Linked DNA regions of Homo sapiens: region 2 is linked to region 1. The links come from fine-mapping of genetic effects on gene expression. Tissue or cell type: whole blood. Region 1 holds a variant in brackets; the other region holds the start of a gene. All regions are shown on one strand. Distances are from middle to middle. Region 1 overlaps LOC124900647 (nascent polypeptide-associated complex subunit alpha, muscle-specific form-like). Region 2 holds the start of RNF212 (ring finger protein 212).

Evidence for each region.
Region 2: RNF212 starts here. The variant in region 1 is fine-mapped to the expression of RNF212 in whole blood (TOPMed, PIP above 0.99).

Annotation. Positions count from the first base shown.
Region 1 is chr4:1,195,393-1,200,761 of GRCh38, forward strand. LOC124900647 (nascent polypeptide-associated complex subunit alpha, muscle-specific form-like) reads left to right here. Exons shown (of 3, transcript XM_047416477.1): 2 at 1-1,404; 3 at 1,739-3,646. LOC100130872 (a long non-coding RNA gene) reads right to left here. Exons shown (of 4, transcript NR_024569.1): 4 at 391-4,655. It overlaps LOC124900164, which reads right to left. Exons shown (of 1, transcript XM_047416479.1): 1 at 5,234-5,369. The coding sequence ends at 5,251. It also overlaps a transcript of SPON2 not described here. Among named protein-coding and RNA genes, the nearest start is that of CTBP1-AS, 12 kb to the right of the region's middle. RefSeq lists enhancers at 1,169-2,368, 4,251-4,800, 5,296-5,369. The variant C/T (reference allele first, on the strand shown) is at 2,962.
Region 2 is chr4:1,110,294-1,115,662 of GRCh38, forward strand. RNF212 (ring finger protein 212) reads right to left here and starts at 3,271. Exons shown (of 10, transcript NM_001131034.4): 1 at 3,063-3,271. The coding sequence starts at 3,171. It overlaps LOC124900647 (nascent polypeptide-associated complex subunit alpha, muscle-specific form-like), which reads left to right and starts at 3,346. Exons shown (of 3, transcript XM_047416477.1): 1 at 3,346-3,459. LOC105374344 (a long non-coding RNA gene) reads left to right here and starts at 3,346. Exons shown (of 3, transcript NR_134676.1): 1 at 3,346-3,459. It also overlaps the pseudogene TMED11P.

The DNA.
Region 1 (5,369 bases):
GGCCCCCTGCGCCTCAGGGGTCCCTCACAGGCCGGCCAGCTTCCAGCACCCTCCCTAAGTCCTCGGCCCCTTGGAGGCTGCCATGGCACCTGAACCTCCCCCCGCCTCTCCAGGCACAGCTCGAGGTTGGGCGGATGGGGGCTGCATCCCGGGCACCACATGTGGGTAGGCACTGCCGCAGCCCCTCGAGTAGCCCTCAGCAAGCAGGGCTGGAGGGTGGGCTCTGTGCAAAACCGCCATCACAGCCCCAGGGCCATCAGCAGGCAGAGGCGCAAAGCCTGGTCATGGCCAGCAGCCCTGGGATGCCCCTGCCCCAGACCCCCCACCCCGGAGACCCCCAGCCCCAGGATGCCCACACCTCAGCCTCCCAAGTAGTTGGGACTACAGGTGTGCACTACCACACCCAGCTGATTTTTTTTTATTTTTGTAGAGCGGTCTCGCTGTGTTGCACAGGCTGGTTTCGAACTCCTGGCTTCGAGCCATCCTCCTGCTCAGCCTCCCATGGTGCTGGGATTGCAGGCGTGAGCCCCACGCCTGGCCACGCGCCTTGTTGAGTTGGTGACTTCGCCTTTGCTGTGGGGATCTGGGTTGGGGTCTTGTGGCTTACATGAGAATAGAAGATCATGGGGTAGTTCCTGGCACCCTCCCCTCAAGGAGGCTCACACAGGCCAGGACCGCCCCCTCTGGCTGCCCCATCGCTGCCCCCCGACAGGCCCTCTGCCTCTCCCCTGTGAACCACGAAGCACATCGATGGGGTGCCTAGCGCCCCGCCTCAGTCAGGGCTCATGGGGGAGGCCCTTCTTTAACGTCTCTTACTGGGCACACCCAGAGGCCACGTGTTCCAGGGTCAGAGAGACCAGGAGAAATCCCAGCTTCTTCACTCACGGCTGTGCATCTTCAAGAAGGTGACTGTGCCTCTCTGAGCCTCAGCCTCCTCTGTCTGACAGCATAGGGGTCTGCAAGTCTCTAGAGGTCATGTGAGCTCCATGGGAACCTCTCATCTATACCGTGGAAGCAGCTGCGGGAAGTGCACGTGAGCTCTGTGGCCTCATGCCGACCAAGACCCTGGGGGTCACACCAGGCATAGCTGAGAAGCAGAGCAGAGGCCACTGCGGTGACCAGGGTTACTCCCGAGACTCAGAGCAGAGGCCACTGCAGTGACCAGGGTTGCTGCCTGCCTGCCACACACCCCACTTGGGCCTCTGGCTGTCTCCTCTCCTGCAGAAACCCCATGGGCAGGTGTGCAGCCAGCATGGAGGGAAGATGTGTGTGCCAGCAGAGAGAGCACGAGGCCTGGAGTTCTCATCTGTGCCACCAGAAGCAGGGGACAGTGAAACATCATCCATGACCACTAGGGAGACGGCTCCATCCCAGGCATCACAAACCAGCCCAGAAGTGTCACCGGTAAGCGCGACAGCAGACACTAGAAGGTATGTCATCCATACTCATTATCCAGAGAAGGTACTAGAAGGAAGCCAGTCACTGCCTCTGAGTCAGACCAGAGGACACCCCCCTGACATCAAGGTGAGGCCAAGGGGAGAGGAAACAGGGCTAAGTAGGGCCTGTGATGTCAGCATGTCTGGTTGGGCATGTGGCAGGGACGATGACTGAGATAGAAGACATAAACCTCCATGGTCCAAACATGGGAGCTAAACTCGGAAAGCCAACAGGACGGGGACATGATGAGGGGACTTGAGGGTCACAGGAGCTCCCTCCGTGTCTCTCTCTCCATAATTAGGTCTAGTGGCAACAGAAAAATGCAGACAGATCAATATGGATGGTCATGCTCACGTTCCTCATGGGAAACAGCGCTTCCGAAGATTCCTCACGGGAAACAGAGCTTCCAAACGTTCCGACTTCCGATAAGTCCATGTCTGTTGTGTATTGGCTGCAAAGAAAACCTCAAGGAACTAAAAAGTAGAATAATTAAAATGATCCTGTTATCCAAAAAATTGTAAAATAAATAACGGAAAGTGCCACCTCTTCCCCCAGAAACTTAGAAACCAACACACTCCCAGGTAGCCCTTGGGTAAAACAGGATATTAAATCTGAACGTGCACTCTCTGAAAAGCCGAGAAGCCATAAATATCAATCCATAAATATCGAGGACTCAGCTAATGCAGCGCCCAGAGCCCCCAGCACAGCTCTTATTTTTTAGAGGAAAAAATAAACGAGAGGGACTTTGTGCCACCCTAAGAAACTAGAATGAGAACAATAAAGTGCATTTTAAAAAGTAGGGAGAATTATGAAGATAAAGCCAGAAATTAATGAGTAGAAAACAAATAAGTAAAAAGGAGAAATGATTGTTTTCTGAAAGAAATAAAATAAAATCCCCTTGCCCAGCCCAAAAGCTGCATCAAGAAATGACTGCCTAGGCTGGGCGTGGTGGCTCACGCCTGTAATGCTTACACTTTGGGAGGCTGAGGTGTGCAGATCACTTGAGGCCTGGAGTTTGAGACCATCCTGGCCAATATAGTGAAACCGTGTCTTTGCAAAAATACACAAATTAGCCGGGCATGGTGGTGCGTGCCCGTAGTCCCAGCTACTTGGGAGGCTAAGACAGAACAATTGCTTGAATCCGGGAGGTGGAGGCTGCAGTGAACTGAGATCGTCCCACTGCACTCCAGCCTGGGTGATAAAGTGAGACTCTGTTTCAAAAAAAAAAAAAAACTAAAACAAATAAATGACTACCTCTATTTAGAATTTTTGTACATTGAAATAAAAAAACCCACACATGATTAGGAAGAAAGAGACCCCAGTATGGAAGAGGCTGGAGGAATGATGAGACAGCCCGCTCGGCCGGGGCAGCTGCTTCGAAACCTGCAGCAGCCATGTTGTCGTGGGTGTAAAGTCCAGAATGACTCTGGATGAGCGGCACCACGCAGAGATGAGCACGAGGTGCTGGAGAGGGCGAGAGCTGAGCCAGGAAAGGAGGCACCAGGAGCAGATGTCCGCAGCTGA[C/T]GATGACCTCACCTTCCATGGAAGGAAAGTCATCCCAGGGTTACTTTAACCTTCCCAAGACATGAAAGGATGGAAAACTCTGTAATTCATCTCATGAAACCAGGATAATCTAATTCAAAAACCTGATGTGGAACAAAAAGAGAAAACCATAGACAAATATCACTTTTCGCAGATGCAAAAAAATCTAAGTAAGAGAACAGCAAATAGGACTCAATGCAGCATCAGCGGATTCTACACAAGAGAACAGCAAATAGGAACCAACGCAGCGTCGGCGGATTCTACACAAGAGAACAGCAAATAGGACCCAACACAGCGTCGGCAGCATCGTGTTATGGCCAAGCAGATGAAGGCCAGGCTTACGAGGGCAGCGCAGTCATCAGAGACGTCATTTCATTAGCCAATTAGCACAGAAAATTCAGAGAACCTCACCGACAGGTACTGAAAAGAAAACTGACCAAATTCAGCAATCTTTATGAATAAAAGCACTATTTCTAGTAAAATAGAAAAAAGTGCAAAAGTCTCTGTCCACAATAGTGGCCAAGATCGTTCTACGTGGAAAACACAAATGTCACAAATCCAGGGTCGACTCGTGGGGCCTGCTGCTGTCATAATTGTCCAGCATTTTCTCGGAGGTTCTGGCAAACTTAATAGAAAAACCAAATAAATGGCACAAATATCAGAAAAATAAGACAATTTATTTTGTTGATGACATGATTGTAAACCTAGTTATGCCTCTGCTCCCTCATTTAAAAATTAAAAATCAGGCCAGGTGCGGTGGCTCACGCCTGTAATCCCAGCACTTTGGGAGGCCAAGGTGGGCAGATCACCTGAGATCAGGAGTTCGAGACCAGCCTGACCAACATAGTGAAATCCTGTCTCTACTAAAAACACAAAATTAGCCGGGCGTGGTGGTGCATGCCTGTAATCCCAGCTACTCGGGGGTCTGAGGCACGAGAATCGCTTGAACCCATGGGTGGAGGTTGCAGCGAGCCGAAATCACACCACTGCACTCCAGCCTAGGCCAGAAGAGTGAAACTCCATCTCAAAAAATATTAAAATTAAAATTAAAAATCAGTAAAAACATTTTAATACAAGATAAATATACAAAAATTAGTAACTTCCCACTCCTCTAGCAATAATCACCTGGAAATTTTAAAAAAAGGGAGTCAAAATATTCCCTTTGCCATGGCAACTGAGTAGTTGGGGGTGAAGGTTAGGATGCTGTATGGAGCAGCTCCGGCCATGGGGAGCTCGACAGAGGCGTCATTTCTCTCCCACATGGTGGCTGAGAATAGCTGGGTGTGCTGCTCTGTCGCCACACATGGGGTCCCCCCATCACGCCTCTTCTCTAGCCTTCCAGGCATCTTTCCTGGCTGTGGGGTTCTACTGGGTGCAGAAATGCCCACGTCCAGCTGGCAGGAGGGGCCGGGGCCAGGGCAGGAGAGGAGAGGCCATGTTTTCCAAGACCGGAGCTGGCAGGAACAGTGTCTCCAGGTGACAAAAGCCTCCGACAATTTGGCGAGAAAGGTGGGGGTGGGCATGAGAGGATGCAGGGCCCCCACCACTCAAGCAAGGAGAGCGGGGGGCAGAGCCACGGAGAAGACCCAGTCTGGAGCCTCTCCCCCCAGCCTGAAGCCCAGCCTCCAGGTTCCATGAAATCACCTCCAGTTATTCCAGGAGAAACGGCGCACGGCCTAGGAAAGAAAGAACAGGCAGCTTGGACCCAGGCTCCAATCCCGGCTGCTAGTTACCAGACGGGCAGCCACATCGCGTCTGTGTGCCTCAGTTTCTACACCTGCGGCTGGGTTGATGGTTGTGTCCGCCCGGTGGGGCTGCTGTGAGTTAAGGGGTGAGAAACGCTTCCCTGTCCACTGTCTCTGACACGTTCTTCCTGGGTCACCCCTCACTCAACACCCCCAGAGACCAGGCAGGCTCCACGGACAGTTGAGAAGGCGTCCAGCCTGCAGAACGGAGTCCAGGACCCAGAGAAGCTTCAGGGGTGAGCAGGGTGGGTCGGGGCTGGGGAGTAAATGACAGAGGGAGCAAGTGGAGGGAGGAAGGGGCTTCAGGACAGGAGGTGCAGGCTAAGCGAGGATGGCTGAGCCGCCCTGGTGTCAGAGCAGGGGAGGCTCAGCGGGGGCGGGGGCGGGCTCAGCCTCTGCGCTTCTGCCTCCAGGATGTTATGGATCTGGCAGGGAACGTGTAAACCATGAGCTCACCCCACGGGAACGTGGTTTCCTCTGGCTGCCCCCACAACAGCTGTTCCCCATCAGCACCGGCCCCATCTCCCTAGCAGGAAGCTGGGCAGCCACTGCAGGCCAGGTGTGGACGACCCTCACAACTCTCCCATCTGCGTGGACATCGCTGGACGGGGTGGTAAGGGGGAGGGGAGCAGCGAGGAGAGGGTG
Region 2 (5,369 bases), 85 kb before region 1:
AAATGAAGGTCAAGGTCACTAGTAAGAGACACCAAAGAGGAGAAAACAACAGGTGCTCACGTGTCACTACAGGGAATAGAAACAGGCACTTCCTTTGTGCCTGTTTGGGTCGCATTTGGGTCAGTTTTCATGTGCACATCCGCAGCCTAGCCACTCCACCCCGAAGAATATATTCCAAGGAAAAAAATCAAGTAAGAGAACAAGTGGTGTCTCATAGCAAAACGGCAGAAACTATGTTATGGTATGATAGCCAAAAGATGTATCATGCAACCTTAAGAATGATGATACAGACTTATTTTAACACGGAAGGAGGTCTATGTTTGAGTAAGTAATAAAAGCAGATTACTGAATGGTAGACACACTATTGCTTTTGTTTTAAAAATCTGCATCTATAGGAAATGCTTGGAAGGATATACACCAGAGCTAAACAAGGGCTTCCCTCTGAGTGACACACCACTGGACAGCTACAGAGCTACAGTCAAGGCTCTGCCCAGAGCCTCCACCCCTTTTCACCACTTTTTTGTGTGTCTTTGGATTTGGTGTGGTCCCGACATGCAGCATCTGTGGCTTTTTGGAGGAATGCACTCAGACTACTGGAATCTGTGTTGACCTCAGGCTTTAAGAGCTAGGCAAACCTGTGAATCTATACCTGCCCCAGGCCCTTAACCAGTCACCTGCCAACGCAGAGTATGCTGACCTCAAAAGCTATGACGCTCTGAGCCCTGTCTTCACACTTCCCAGCACCACGAAGGCACACGCGTCTCCATCATTCCTAACAATGTTATCTTCGGGGAACATTATCTTGGGTCACCAGTGCCCTCCTCACTGGTCCAATGGACACTTTCAAACACCAATTCCTTGACTTCACTGGGATGTCCAGTTCATCAACATCTCTTTTTTACCTGACATCTTCTTTACCTCCTTCAACAAATGCTCTTTCCAACAAGATAGTCTCTTCTAGTTTCCTTCACCTTTGGGGCTCTCCACACTCCAATATCTAGGATTATAGGATTATTATCCCGTATTAATCGCTCCCCAAATGTGTTCCTGGCTGTCTTGAGTTCCAGACCCACATGTGCAACTGCCTCTTGTCTTCCCCTGGATGGCTCTCACAGGATACAGGCCGTGTCCAGACATGAGCTCAGGGGCCCTGCACCCCACCCTGCTGTGCCCCACCCTGCTGGGTTCCCTCCCGCTGGGCTCCTCTCCAGTGTTTTGTCTAGCAGTGAAACCCTGTCCAGTTCTCTAGCCCTTGTCTCCGACTCATGTCTGCTGAATCTACCTAACTTCTCCTGAACCTATCACTTCTCCCCATCACCTCTCATGTGCTCAGCTGCAGTCTCTCCCACAGTTTCTATCTCCCTCCAATCTACTTTTCACCTCGCTGCCCGAGACACTTTTGTTTTTAAATACACACCTGAAATCAACAACTCCACTCCCAGGTTACACACCCAACAGAAATGTGTACCTAAGATCACCGAAGACAGGAGCAAGAAGATTCACAGTAGCATTATTTCTGCAGCCAAATCTGCAAACAACCCAAAGGGCCATGGACAGTGGAAACGATGAGTAACTTGGGGTGTATCCATACAATGGAACACCACACAACAATGAAAGTAGATGAACTACAGTTACATACAAATACAATGATAAACTTTGCTAATCCCACATTTCGGGAGGCCAAGGCCGGTGATTGTTAGAGGACAGGAATTGGAGACCATCCTGGGCAACAAAGGGACCCCATCTCTGTGAAAAATTAAAAAAATCAGGGGTGCGTGGCTGCACATGCCTGTAGCCCCGCTACCCTGGAGGCTGAGGTAGGAGAATCACTTGAGCCTGGGAGGCGGAGGCTGCAGTAAACCGAGATCCCGCCACCGAACTCCAGCCTGGGCGACAAAGCTGAGCTCTGCCTTGAAAGAGGCAAAGAGAAGGAAGGGAGAAAAAGGAAGAAAGATGGGGAGCCACAGAAAGCGGCTTTGCTGTAGGGCTGGTTGTAGGGCTGCATTCACTAAGGCTCCATGGGTCTAAGGCCAACTCCGAGGATGGAGGTCAGCACAGCTGGCGTCCCCTGGGGCTGGAGGGCTGTGAGCCACCGGCACCCAGCTGGCTGCTTTCACGGGGAAGTTCGCTTGGTAAAAGCTCACTGTGTTTTTGCTTTTGTTCTTGCATAAACATCAGTTCAACACAAAATTTTCACAGAAAGAAAAACGCCTCCCTGACAATGCGACTGTCCACTTGACACCAGGGCCCCGCGCTGCCCATGGAATAGGGCCAGAGTCCTCCACTGGCGTTAAGGTTGCCGCCTGCCCGCTTCTCCCCCAGGTCCTCCAGGCGGACCCGCAGCCTGCAAGCCAGAGCCCCCGACTGACAGGACTCGTGGCCCGACCCCTGTGTCCCCCTCATCTTGCATCCCGCTCCCCCCGGCGGCCCCTCCCCTCCACGGCCCCTTCCTGCCTGCGGACCCTCCCCCACGCCCTCCTCCCCTGGCGTCTCCCCTCCCCCCATCTCCTCGGTATCCCCCTTCCCCCCCAAGCCTTGACCCCCCACATCCCCCACCTTGCCCCCCTCCTCTGGCGTCCCCTTCCTCCCTGCAGCCCCCCACCACCTCCGGCGTCCCCTCTTTCCCCACCCTCCCGCAGCCCCTCACTCCCCCGCTCCCTCCCCACCGCTTCTCCAGTGTCCCCCTCTCCCCACGGGCCCCTCATCACGCCCGCGGCCCCCACTCCCCGGTGGCCCCTCCTCCGAATACCCCTACCTCCGCGGCCTCTCACCCCCCCATGCCCCCCCCGCTCCATGCGCCGTTTCTCCCCCTCGGCCCCCCACGCGCCCCCGCGGCCCCTCCACCCCAGGTCCCCCTCCCCTCAGAGTTCCCCTGCTCCTCGCGGCCTCTCCCCTGGCATCCCCCTCCCCCTGCCCCCTCCCCCTTCTCCACGCGCCCTCTCTCCTCCGCAGCCCCCCACGTGCCCCCATGGCCCTCCCACCCAAGTCCCCCATCCCCCGGAGTTCCCTGACCCCCTTGCCGCTCCCCTCCCCTCTCCAGCCTGCGTTCGGGAAGCCCTGACCTTTGCCGAGGCAGGCGTCGCAGTACACGTGCCCGCAGTTGGTGAGGCTGAAGCACGACGTCCTGTGGGGCGGCTGGAAGCAGCGATTACAGAACACCCAGTTGGCCATGCCAGGCGGGCGACCGCAGCGGCGAGGCCGGGCCCACGCGAAGCCCACGCAAGGTTGGGACCAGCCTCCCCGCGCAGGGCCCGAAGGCGGGCAGCTCTGCGCCTGCGCAAAGTCGACGGCAGCCCTGCGCCCGCGCACTGGAGCTCGCGCCCTCCCGCCAACCTCGCGGGTTCTCCCGCAGCACCTGGGAGGGCGCGTGTGACTCGTCTCCCAGGTCGTTTGGGCTGGAGTAGGCGGAGGAACGCACCGCGAGCACCAACGTCCCGCCCCTGTCTTGGCGGTCCTCAGGTGTTTTGTGGAAGCCGGGCCTGGGTGGCGGGCGCGGGGAATGGCGGCTGCGCTGAGGAGGCGTCGCGGCGCGACAGCAGTGGGGGAGGGGGAGGGGGAGCGCCGAGGGCGGGGGATGCGGGCCAGGCCCACCTTGAGGGCCGGGAGCTGGGCCGGAGGCCAGGGCGGCCAGGGTAGTGCGCTGGGCGAGGCAGGGGAGGAGTAGGGGAGAGTGGGCGTGGGGGCCCTGGGGGCCCGGGGAGCGGGATAGGAGGGAGGGAGGGATAAGTGGGTGTGGGAGTTGGGGTGGGAGCGGGAGTGGGGATGTGGGAGTTGGGGTGGGTGTGGGGGCGTGAGGCGGTGGGGGTGGGGTGTGATGAGGCGGTGGGGGTGGGGGGGGCAGTTGGGGGTGGGGGCCAGGCCGCGCTGCACGCTTTGGGACTAGTGTCCAGGTGGCCGCTGGCGCAGAGACCTCAGCACGGGAGGCCTGAGCCTGCTTCCCTCTGAAACGGAAGGCGTAGCTCGGGAAGGACCTCTGCTGCTTCCAGGTTCCAGCATGGGGAAGTGACTTTTTATAAAATTGTCCTCTGCGTGGTTTTGAGAGTTTCCACCCGCTGGGACGCTGCAAAGCTCGGATCGAGAGGCTCAGGCAAGTGCTTGTGCCGGGAGAGCGCAGGGTGAGCGCTCCCGGTAGCTACGGGCCAAGTGACCCCTGCGCCCCGAAAGATGTGAGTAAAATACAGCTGTTTCCAGGGCCTCGTATGAAAACCTTCTTAGTAATTTTATATTGATTACATGTTAACATGATATTTTTGATATATTAGGTTAAATATATATCAGTAGCGTTGATTTTACCCTTTCAAAAAATCCTTTTCAATGTGGAGACTAGAAAACTTAGAATTACGTATGGGCTGGGTGCGGTAGCTCACGCCTGTAATCCCAGCTACTCCGGAGGCTGAGGCAGGAGAATCGCTTGAACGAGGCGGAGGTTGCAGTGAGCCGAAATCACACCACTGCACTCCAGCCTGGGCAACAGAGTGAGACTTCGTCTCAACAACAACAACAGCAAATTAGAATTATGTATGTAGCCCACTTTTATTTCTGTTAGACAGTGCTGATCTCTACCAAGTTTAAAATAGCAAGACCAGCAACGTGGCAAAACCCCGTCTCTACAAAAAATACAAAAATTAGCTGGGTGTGGTGGTGGGCCCCTGGGGTCCCAGCTACTCGGGAGGCTGAGGTGGGAGGATTGCTTGGGCCCTGGAGATCGAGCCTGTGGTGAGCCTGACGGCACCTGTGCAGCAGAGCGAGACTCAGTCTCAAAAATAAGTTTAAGAATAGGATGAGGTGCCTAATCTATCAAATTCAGAAGCTGCATTATAAAAGCATTCTCTCAATGTTATAATGATATAACGTTAATCTCAATCTCTGGTATCTTTGAAATCATAAAAATAATACACATATATGCAGGTATTTTGATTTATTAACTCAAACATTATGCAGATTATTTGTCCTTATTGATAATATTTTAAACAATCTTCTTAGCTATAAAGAAGTCTTTCAGGTACTTCATTTGGAAAATTCCGACTGAGATAAAGATTAATATTTGTGCAAAAGCCCACCATAAAACATTGCTATTTGTATCTTCACTGGTCGTTCGAAAATTTTCTTCACGGTCCTATGCGGAAAAGAAGTAGGTTTAGTGTCATAAAGTACTTAACTCACGATTTTGAGGGGAGGGTTGTTGTGGGCATTCAAGGTATTTAATATTACCCAATTAATATCTTACACCAACGTATCCGTGCAGTCTGCTTTTCTAAACCAGAATCTGTTGCTTAGCCAAGTATAAGAGAGTAAAAATCAACCTTATAAAAGATGGTTTTGTATTTTGGTGTAAAATATCAGGAATTTGACCTATTCGTATATTTTAT